Regions from separate parts of the Homo sapiens genome. Here region 1 is linked to region 2. Evidence: fine-mapped expression QTL. A gene starts in region 2. The other region holds a variant in brackets. All regions are shown on one strand. Distances are from middle to middle. Region 1 overlaps KIF6 (kinesin family member 6). Region 2 holds the start of KCNK17 (potassium two pore domain channel subfamily K member 17).

Region 1 (5,364 bases), 30 kb before region 2:
CAGGAATCCAAGGCAAGGCGCACATGTCAGCAGCCTAGGTGAGCAGGCACAGCTGCATCTAATGAGCTGTTGGATCTGACTCCTCTCTCAGCATGAAGCTAGGTCCCAGGGGCAGGCAGTGTGGTCAGGGGTAGGCCAGCGTGTGTTCCTAGAATGCCACAGAGTCAAGCCCAGTTAGAAGGCATTGTGGCTGAGAGCACAGGTTCTGAAGCCTCAAAGAATCCTGAGTAGTTCCCGATTCTGCCACTTACCAGCTGGATAACTTTAGAATTTCTTTAATCTGTCTAAGCCTCAGTTTTCTCATGTATAAAATGGAGACGATGACATCTACCTCTTAGGTCATTGAGAGGATTAAATGGCATGATATTTGCAGAGCACTTTCACGAAGCCTGGCGTGTCTATCAATGACAGTTGTGGCCATCGTTTGTTGTTCAGCTGCTACAGCCAACAGATGCATGCTCTAACAATGAAAATTACTGTGTAGGCCGGGCACAGTGGCTCACGCCTGTAATCCCAGCACTTTGGGAGGCCAAGGTGGGTGGATCACCTGAGGTCAGGAGTTCAAGACCAGCCTGGCCAATATGGTGAAACCCCATCTCTACTAAAAATACAAAAAATTAGCCAGGTGTTGTGATGCATGCTTGTAATCCCAGCTACTTGGATGGCTGAGGCAGAAGGATTGCTCAAACCCAGGAAGCGGAGGTTGCAGTGAGCCAAGATCATGCCACTGCACTCCAGCTTGGGCAACAAGAGTGAAACTCCATCTCAAAAAAAAAGAAAAAAAGAAAATTACTGTGTAAACCATCCAAGACAGGACTCTTGGCTCTTGTCTTAGTCTGCTCAGGCTGCTATAACAAAATACTATAGACTGAGTGGCTCAAACAACAAACGTTTATTTTTCACAGTTCTGGAGGCTGGGAAGTCCAAGATCAAGGCACTGGCAGATTCGATGTCTGGTGAGGACCCCCTTCCCGGTTCATAGACAGCTGTCTTCTCGACGCATCCTCACATGGTGGAAGGGGCAAGGGAGCTCTCCAATGTCTCTTTTATAAGGACTCTAATCCCATTCATGAGAGTTCTACCTTCATGACTTAATCACCACCCAAAGGCCCCACCTCTACTACCATTACATTGGAGATTAGGTTCAACACATGACTTTTCAGGGACACAAACCTCCAGTCCGTAGCACAGCAGATTTAGTTCCTGCTGAGGGCTTCCTTCCTCGCTTGCTGGCACCTCCTTCTTATTGTGTGCTCACATAGGAGAGAAAGAGAGAGAGAGAGAGAGAGAGAGAGAGAGGGAGAGGGAGGGAGAGGGAGAGGGAGGGGGGGAGGGAGAGGGGGGGGAGAGAGAGAGAGAGAGAGAGAGAGAGAGAGAGAGAGCACTGTAGTTTCTCATCCTCCTCTTATACCTATAAGGACACTAATCCCAGTGCAGGGGCCCTACCCTCAGGACCTCATCTAAATCTATTCACCTCCCAAAGGCCCCACTGCCCAATGCCATCACACTGGGAATTAGGGTGTCCACATAGGGATTTTGAGAGGACACATTCAGTCCATAACAGCTCCTAGATATAAACCCTGAATTTCCTTCTATAAATTTGCCCCCATTCCTTTTGCTTTTGTTTGTTTGTGTTTTGCAGTGATGTGAATGCCAGGAAAATCCTGCCCTCGCCTTGCCCCAGTCCACACAGCCAGAAACAGAGCAGCACCAGCACCCCACTGGAAGACAGGTCTGTGGTCTTCTCCTGTTATGCCTGTGACAGCCCCTGCAGTGGGCGGAGTGGGCCTCCATCTCCAGTCTACTCCCCGAAAAAGCCCCTCGTCCAGTAGCCACACAGACAGAACCCAGGTCTGGCCTCTGCCCTGGTCCCCTGGGAATTCCCTGGAATCTCTCACACAGGCCAACTCAAAGCGGGGAGGTTTTCTCCCACAGTCACCAGGGCCCTGTGTTGGGCAGAGTTGTTTCATATCTTCTTGTGAATAGACGTACCTGGGGGCCAGAAAGGGAAAGAGCCAGCCCAGGGCAGCCCCACCACAGAGCAGAGCAGGGAGCTGACAAGCCTGGCCTGAAGACCCAGCAGCATTTGCTTCCAGGCTTACCAGAGTTGATCAGCACCATGGGCATTTGTATCCTCCGGCTAGAATGGCTGCTCAGCCTCTTTCACCAGCACAGCCTCTGCCCTGCCTGCCTGGACTCTGCTTTAGTGCTTCCGGCTGGCCTGCAGCGGGAAAGCCAACACCCAAACTACCTGCGGGAATGGCCAGCCCCTTGTTACATACCGTCCTTACTGCCTTCTAAGGAAGTGGCTACCACCTCCTGCTGTGCAGAGGCACAGGGGTGAGGATGGACGGAAAGTTGGCAAGGCCAGGCAAGTGTACTGCTCTGAGTTTGCTGAAGGGGAATGCTATATGGAGAAGCTGGATGGAAAAGGGGATGGGGGAGGGCACACACAGCCCTCCCTTTCTAAGGAGATTCCCACACAACACTTCTACTTACAAATCTCATTGGCCAGCACCTGGTCACCCGGCCACACATCGCAGCAAAGGAGTCTGGGAAA[G/T]GTAGTTTTTTTAGTTGTGGCAACTTAGCTAAATATGATTCTGTTTTTAAGGAGAGACAGGAGAACAGTAATCTCTGCCTTGAGGTCAACTAGCTAAGCCACGTGGGGAATGAGGGTGCTCTGAGGACACAGCACTGAATGATATGACATCTAAGCTGGGCACAGAAGTTGATGGGCCCCAGGTTAAGGGGTGCTGGTTTGGGTAAATCAGGGATGGGAGGACAAGAGTGGTGGTGGTAAGAGGATAGAGAAGGCAGCGAGAGAAAGCACAGCCGCCATGTGACGGGTGGTGGGGAGGGCAGTCCAGGGAGAGGAAGCATCAGAGCAAAGGCCCTGAGGCTGGAAGTGGCTTGGTAAATGCAAGTCACTGAAAGAAAAGGGGGCAGCTGGAGCCCCTGACCCGGGGTCATATCATACACAGCCTGGTAGGTCATGGGACAGAGTTTAAGTTTTATTCCATGAGTGGTGAAAAGCCACTAAAGGGTCTGTATTAGTCTGTTTTCACACTTCTGATAAAGACATACCTGAGACTGGGTAATTTATAAAGAAAAAGAGATTTAATGGACTCACAGTTCATGTCACTGGGGAGGCCTCACAATCATGGTGAAAGGCACGTCTTACATGGTGGCAGCCAAGACAGAATGAAAGCCAAGTGAGAGGGGAAACCTCGTATGAAAACATCAGATCTCATGAGACTTATTCACTACCACGAGAACAGTATGGAGGAAACCGTCCCCATGATTCAGTTATCTCCCACCTGGTCCCTCCCACAACACGTGGAAATTATGGGAGCTACAGTTCAAGATGAGATTTGGGTGAGGACACAGCCAAACCATATCAGGGTCTATGGCAGGGAATGACTTGACCCAATTTGCATGACAAGAGGCTTAGTGTGGCTGCCACACAGAGAAGGTAGGAGGGAGTGAGAAGCAGGCCAGCCGTGTCATGTAGCTTTCTGAGTGAGATCAGTCACCTAAAATGGAAAAGCATTTTGGAAATATAAGTGGTGAGTCCAGTTGTAAAGTGTAGTAAAATGTGACACGTGGTTGCCTCCAGCATCCCCAAGAGGCCAGTGTCGTCCATCCCTCTCACCGGAGACAGCCAGACGGACTCGGACATCATCGCCTTCATCAAGGCCAGACAGAGCATTCTGCAGAAGCAATGTAAGTGCACCTCCCTCGGTGGCTCCTCCTGGGCAGCAGGTCACCAACACTTGTGGGGAGCACACAGTGAGGTGGGAGGGGAGTAGGGAGTTTCCTGCATATTCCTGAAGCCACAGGACTGGCCTGCCTGTCAGTCACATGTGCCCAGCCTCTGATTCCTTCTCGAGAAAGCCTCAAGGGGCAGCATCAGAAACACCAAGACAGGCCCAAGTGGGTGGGCGGCCCAGGTGCTCCTGTCCCTCTTGGCAGAGCTTGCTCTCTGTCTCTTCCAGATCTTCAGCTCCTTTGTTCTCTGTTCCCAAAGTCAGCTGTCTCCTCTGCTCAGGCTTCTACAAACAGGAAGGGGCTGAGTGATGTTTTGGTAACTCGTTGAACCCCTGGCTTAAAGTCTCACTCCCCTATCAGAGTGTGGTTCTTGCCAAAGAGCTGTGAGTGTAAACACTGCTTGAAGGCCCAGGCCCGAGGACACCATAACAATCACAGAGGAAGTAAGAGTGGCGTGTCAGACAACAGGAAGAGAAGAAGGCTCTTCTTGGTCTGCATCACTGCCCCCTCCACCCCCAGCCCCGTCCTCTTGGCAGCTGCCCATCTCCCATCTGCTGTGGCTGGGCCTTTTCTCTTTCTGCCTTCCATCCCCAACACACCCACAGGGCAAGCCCCAGGGCCCCTTACCCCAGGCCTGCATTTTGTCTTAGCCTCCTCCCCATAACCCAAAGGCTACTAGGCAGGCTTAACATTGCCTTCACATTGCCAGAAAGGCGCCCCCACCGTGATGGTATGGGCTGGCAGATTCGATGTATAATGACTGATGCCTGCCCTGTGGCGCCTGCACTCAGCTTCTCCACCAGCCGTGTGCAGTTTGGGCAGGAAGAGGTTTGTGCATGGATGGAGCGCCGCAACTGAGAGCCGGCCTTGGTCCTGTACTCGCCTTGCTTGGCCGCCAGCCTGCTTATTTACTATCCTCTCTTCACCACCAGGACCAGCAGCCTCAGCAACACTGTCAGGTCCTTTCTTAAGCCTGAGACAGCCCCACCTCTGCTGTGATCTTGTCTCATTCTCAGTTTCCTTGTCTAAAAATAAAAAAAAATAAAAAAAAATAAAAAAAAATAAAAAACTGGATTCAGTGATCTCCAAGTCCCCATCTATGCCCCAAATACTCTGATGATAGGTATCAGGCACTGAACAGCAATGAACAGCCAATCAGTCAGCAAACACTGTATATGTTGGGTGCCTTCTTATGCCAGGCACTACTACTAGTGCTGGTGCTACAGCAGAGAACAAGACAGAACCCAGCACGTGAGAAACTGACATTCTAGGGGGAGGAAGGAGACAGACAATGAACACGTCGACAAATACGTAAGATTGTTTGAGGGGATAATAAGTGCTATGAAATAGCTAAACTATGTAATGTTGTAGACAGTAACTGGGAAGACTGCTTTTAGCTGGGTAGGTTGGGGAGGCCTTGCTGGAGAAGATAACTTTAAACTGACAGCTGCATCATGAGAATGGAGCAGCTACGCCGCGTTCTGGGAATGCACAGTCCTAGCAGACAGAGCGGAAAGCGAGAAGCCTGAAGGGGAAGCTTTGCTTGGCCACAGGGTGGGAAGGAAGCTAGAGTGGCTGGAGGGCAGGGAGCAAGAG
Region 2 (5,364 bases):
TGGGCCTGGCTCTGTTCCTGACCCTGGGGACGCTGGTCATTCTCATCTTCCCACCCATGGTCTTCAGCCATGTGGAGGGCTGGAGCTTCAGCGAGGGCTTCTACTTTGCTTTCATCACTCTCAGCACCATTGGCTTTGGGGACTATGTTGTTGGTGAGAACAAAACAGTCACATTATCTCAGGGTGGGGGTGCCCACTGGGATTTGGGGGATGGAGAGATGTCAGCTGAGGACAACTATTGAGGATAAGATAGCCCTTGGTCATTCAAGGGAGCCAAACCAATGATTTCTGGGACTACTGTGGATTCTAAGCAACATTCTCAGAAGTTTCTGGTCTAGGACCCATCACCACCCTGCAGAGACCTACCTCAACTGCTGTTCCTTGTTATGAGGAAGAGGGAGAGAGCATCCTGGCTGGTGAGGGTCCCTATGGAAACTGGAGGTGGCTATGCCCTGAGACCCCTGGCATTGATGCCATTCCCTTCCCTGGCAGGCACAGACCCCAGCAAGCATTATATCTCAGTGTATCGGAGCCTGGCAGCCATCTGGATCCTCCTGGGCCTGGCGTGGCTGGCGCTGATCCTCCCACTGGGCCCCCTGCTTCTGCACAGATGCTGCCAGCTCTGGCTGCTCAGTAGGGGCCTCGGCGTCAAGGATGGGGCAGCCTCTGACCCCAGTGGGCTCCCCAGGCCTCAGAAGATCCCCATCTCTGCATGAGGCCCCCGGGGGGGGCCCAGAAACCCCTTTCATCCTCCCCAGTCCCACCCTATCTGCTCTCTGGATTTCCAGCCCTGCTTTCTCCTCTCCCAACCCCCTCACTTCTCAGCCAGGGCTGGTCTCAGGAGCTCTCCCAAGAGAGAAAGGAGACAGGTATATCCAAGAAAGTAACAGAGAGGAGACGTGAGATAGGATTAAAGACATGTGTGGATGGGGAGGTGTACCCTTGTCCCAGAGCCCCTGCCACAGCCTTCCACCCAAAGGTAGTGGCCAGATCTCCACTGCCCTCCCCATGCCCCCTTCCAGGAGACCTTACACAAACAAAGGATGACTTTACTTTTGCCTCATTTGATATGTGCACAGTGCATTTGCCAAGCCCCTACTATGTGCCAGGTGCTGTGCCAGGGTCTGTGCCAGGGTCTGGGGATACAGCAGTGGAAGTGCCTGCCCTTGATGTGCCTTTAGTTGCTAGGCAAGCAAAGAGGCAGCCCCAACACAGTGCCCAAAATGCTATGATGGGAATAGCCCCAGGGTTGATGAGAGCCCATGGGAATGGCTGGCAGGGAGCATCAAAGAGAGGGGAGACCTGGGCAGAGACTTTGGAACAATCTTAGTGAAAAGAGGATCTCTGCCCTCAGGAAGCTCTCAGCCGAGGGGCAGGCGAGCTGCCTCTCAAAGCTCGCCAGCTCCCCTTGCCTAGAAGTCCAGGGCTGTCTGTGAACAAAGCTTAGGACCTCTTGGGTGTCCTACCCACTTTCCTGAACATGGCCTCCCCTGACCCTCACAGGCCACCCCCTTAACTTCATCACTCCCTCTGGGCTCCTGCCTTCTCAAGAGCCTTTCCAAACACCCCATGGGAAGCCAGAGAGCCAGCAGATCCCAGGATCCTTCCAGAAAGTGAGCTCCATGAACGTCTGGCCTCTCTCAGGAATGCATTCTCCAGGTCTGGCCTTTCCCCTGCCAGACTGCAACATCCCTGACCAGGAGAGATTTAGACCACTCCATCCCGGGGCCTGGAAATTTTGGCCTTTGCCTCTCCCATCATCCAACAGCAAGTGGGCTCCTATGTGGCTGGGTTCCTCTGCACAGGTCTGAGGCAAGGCTGTGGAGCCAAGGCGGCTCCAGGCAGGAGACCCAGGAGAGGCTCTACAGCAGCAAGAGGAGTCCAAGTCACACCCCAGGACTTCCCCATATCCAAGAAAGGACTGGGAAGCTGAGGACCCACGGACTCTTCACACAGCCTAGACGCTTCCTCCACTCCAGGTAGAGGGATTTCGGGGGCCTTCTCAGAAGCAAGGAGTGGACAAGCCTCTTGGTTAAGGCTCCTCTTACCTCCCAAGCTCATGGACAAGTGGCAATCAGCTGGGGTCCCTCTTTTGGGGTACAAAGGAAAGGACAGAGGTGTGGGAGACCCAAGGTGGTCTTGAGATTGACAGACAGCAAGTCCTTGGAGATAGCCCCCGAGTCCAAGAACTTAGGCAGGGGCCCCAAGACAATAAAGTTGGTCTCTACTATCTCCTACCTCTGAGTGCGGTTTCCAGAAGTCCCTCCCATTGTTCATTTCAGGAAATGTGAGGGGGCTCTGGGCCCCTTCCCTCAGCGCCTGCGGTCACCCAGCAGCTTCCTCCTTCTCCCTGGCCTAGGCCTAGCAGGTGGGCACCCCGCACACATTTGAGGCGGGGCCAGATGCCCACAGTTCAGAGCCTCTTTTTGTCCCGGGGATTGGATCCCAGGGCTGGGTGGGGCCAGGCTGTCCCATTCCCCAACACTCCTCCTCCCCGGCGAAACCGGGCACCAGCAGGCGTTTGCGAGAGGAGATACGAGCTGGACGCCTGGCCCTTCCCTCCCACCGGGTCCTAGTCCACCGCTCCCGGCGCCGGCTCCCCGCCTCTCCCGCTATGTACCGACCGCGAGCCCGGGCGGCTCCCGAGGGCAGGGTCCGGGGCTGCGCGGTGCCCAGCACCGTGCTCCTGCTGCTCGCCTACCTGGCTTACCTGGCGCTGGGCACCGGCGTGTTCTGGACGCTGGAGGGCCGCGCGGCGCAGGACTCCAGCCGCAGCTTCCAGCGCGACAAGTGGGAGCTGTTGCAGAACTTCACGTGTCTGGACCGCCCGGCGCTGGACTCGCTGATCCGGGTCAGGGGCGAGCGGCGTCGGCCTGGGCGCGGCGGGATGGGGTAGCGGGCCGCGGGGTGTACGGGCCGAGGGCGAGGGGGCCTATTCAGGCCCTGGTCAGGTGTTTCCTGTTCAGGGAAACGTCGGGAACGCAGACGCGGGCACAACGGGGGTGGGCGTTCCTGCGCGGGGACCAGAGGGTTGGGGGACCTCGGAGGAAAAGACCCTCGCCCTAGCGAGAGGACTGCGAGAAGCCGGGCTGAGTCCTACTTGGGGGCGAGAGGGCATGCTGGCCCGGTGAGGAGGCAGATGCCTGGGGACACATCCAAATTTGGGGGCGAGGACGACTACGGCAGGGGGCGCGCGCGTAACCGGCCCCGCCCGGCCTGACCCGGGAAAGGGCGCGTTTGAGCCTGCTTGGGGGTTGGTCGCACCCGCACCCGTGGCAAAGAGCTAAACGCCACACCTGGCCGCTTCCAGAGGGGGAACCCGGGCGCACGTTTGCGAACTGGGAGCTGGGACGGCAGGGGCGCCGGGTCTAAGGATGCGCAGGAGCGAGGGCGCGGCCGTAGGAGCCTGGGGGAAGGCGCGTTTGTCCCGGAGGGTGGGTGGATTGGGCCCGAGGCGTGCTGGTCGGGGCCACCCTCAACGCAGAGAGGGGGCTCGACGTGCGCAGACCCGGGTTCGAGAGGAGGGCGGACGCAGGGCCGCTCTCTGGCTGAACCCGCTTTACTCCGAGTCTTCGGACACAAGGACTGGGCGCGCCGCCGCCGCGCGGCTGCCCAGAAAGGCTGAAGGCAGGGTTCAGGGGAGGACTCAGAGGTAAATCTGAGCAGAGGCTCCTCAAGGGTGGGGCCTAGCAGGGCGGAGGAGGCCGGGGAGGGTTCTAGGGGTGGCGCATCTTAGGACTGAAGCGACGCCAGACTGGCAGCTGCTCGATTTGGCGGAGGCATTGATGTCCTGGGTCCTGGCTTGGTTCCCCACCCCTTCGTCCAAGAGCCCAGAGTCCAGACAGCTGCGCGCCAGCCCAGAATCCCCGTCTTGCAGTCCTGGTGGCTTATCCGTCCAGAGTCTCCAGTCCAAAGCCAATCCCCGGAAGGTGGCAGGGAACCGTGCCAGGGTGGGAAGGGACCCAGCGCGGAGCGGAAGTGGTGTTCTGAACCCTCGGACTAGGCCGATTCGGTGAGGTCAGGAGGTAGCCAGGGCCAGGCCTATCTCTACTAAGGACCTAAAGTGATTCCTCCAGCTCCCCACCTGCGGACTTCTGCAAATACAGCCCGACTGCTGGGTCCTGGTGCTGAGGCTGCCTGCCATTACCCTTGCAAAGGTGGTGAACTTCGACTACAAGCAGCCTGGGCCCAGGGAGATGGCTATGATGGTGATTATAATAACAGTAAATGCCTCTGTGCAGCACTTATCGTGTGCCAAGCACTGTTGCTGGTACTTTACCCGTATTCATTTGTCTCACCTCCCTCACAGGTGGGTACTGTTTTTATCATCCTGTTTCACCCTCACAGGTGGGTACTGTTTTTATCATCCTGTTTCAGAGGTGAAGAAACAGGCTCAGAGAGGTTACATACGAATGCATGGCTACATAGCCAGGAGCTGGAGCTGTTAACCAGCATAAATACTGCCTCAGTGTGGACCTGTGGATGTGGGTGCTTCCCAAGATTCCCAGCCAGGCTGTCATCTCTTTGGGCTTTCCCTTCAACTCCCTCCACCCCCACCTCACCCCCTTCCTCAACACTCCTGTGGCTTCAGCCAACTCCAGGAATAAGGATGTGGTATCCAGCCCAGATCTTTCTGAGCACCAGATGTGGACATGCAACTTCTGAAATTCCTCAAGGCCAAGAGCAAGTGGTCCTCCTCCTCCCAGCCCTGCTTCTCCACCTGTCCTAAATCTCGATTGTCTGCCCCATGTCCACACACCCTCACAATCCTCTGCAACATCTCCTTTACTGCCCATACTAAATAGGGCCAGAGGCCTGGGCTTCTGAATATCTCCTCTCTGTTCCTCCTGGACCACCTGTGCCAGGAGACAGGCCAGGGCCCGTCTATCACTCACTTCTGCAGGAGTCTCTCCCCTCTGGTCAACCCTTTCTATACTGCCAGCTGCCACAGAGCACACAAACCTGATCCTACTTCCCCTTTGCTCAGTGACCTTGGCTGATACCTGCGACTTCATCCCTGGCATGGCAAAGCCAAGCACAGCTTGGCCTCAATCACTTCTTACCAGTCTCCCTAATCTAGGTCCCAGGCAGTCTCACCTCCCACCTTCTGCACTGCTGTCCCATCTACCTAAACATCCTTCCACCAGAAGCAATCCTACCTGACCCTCAAAGGCCCAGCTAAAACATCCCATTCTCCATGAGGCCTCTGCTCCTACCCAAATGAGAATGAACATCCTTCTTCCCCAGAGTCCTACAACATTATATGCCTATATAATGCATATAGGCAATATAGCAACTGCTAACACCATGTGCCAGGTACTAAGTCTACACATAATACCTTATTTAACACAACAACTCTATGAA

What was found. PIP is the estimated chance that this variant, and not a neighbour inherited with it, causes the effect.
Region 1: its variant is fine-mapped to the expression of KCNK17 in spleen (GTEx, PIP above 0.99). The same link has a PIP of 0.9 or more in tibial nerve.

The regions. Positions count from the first base shown.
Region 1 is chr6:39,342,068-39,347,431 of GRCh38, reverse strand. KIF6 (kinesin family member 6) reads left to right here. Exons shown (of 23, transcript NM_145027.6): 20 at 906-956; 21 at 1,643-1,732; 22 at 3,617-3,723. LOC105375047 (a long non-coding RNA gene) reads right to left here. Exons shown (of 3, transcript XR_926774.3): 3 at 4,731-4,793. Among named protein-coding and RNA genes, the nearest start is that of KCNK16, 22 kb to the right of the region's middle. RefSeq lists enhancers at 2,092-2,593, 3,268-4,105, 4,088-4,137. The variant G/T (reference allele first, on the strand shown) is at 2,561.
Region 2 is chr6:39,311,571-39,316,934 of GRCh38, reverse strand. It overlaps KCNK17 (potassium two pore domain channel subfamily K member 17), which reads left to right and starts at 2,516. Exons shown (of 5, transcript NM_031460.4): 1 at 2,516-2,851. The coding sequence starts at 2,615. It overlaps KCNK16 (potassium two pore domain channel subfamily K member 16), which reads left to right. Exons shown (of 5, transcript NM_001135106.2): 4 at 1-153; 5 at 493-764. The coding sequence ends at 716. LOC105375047 (a long non-coding RNA gene) reads right to left here and starts at 2,979. Exons shown (of 3, transcript XR_926774.3): 1 at 2,711-2,979.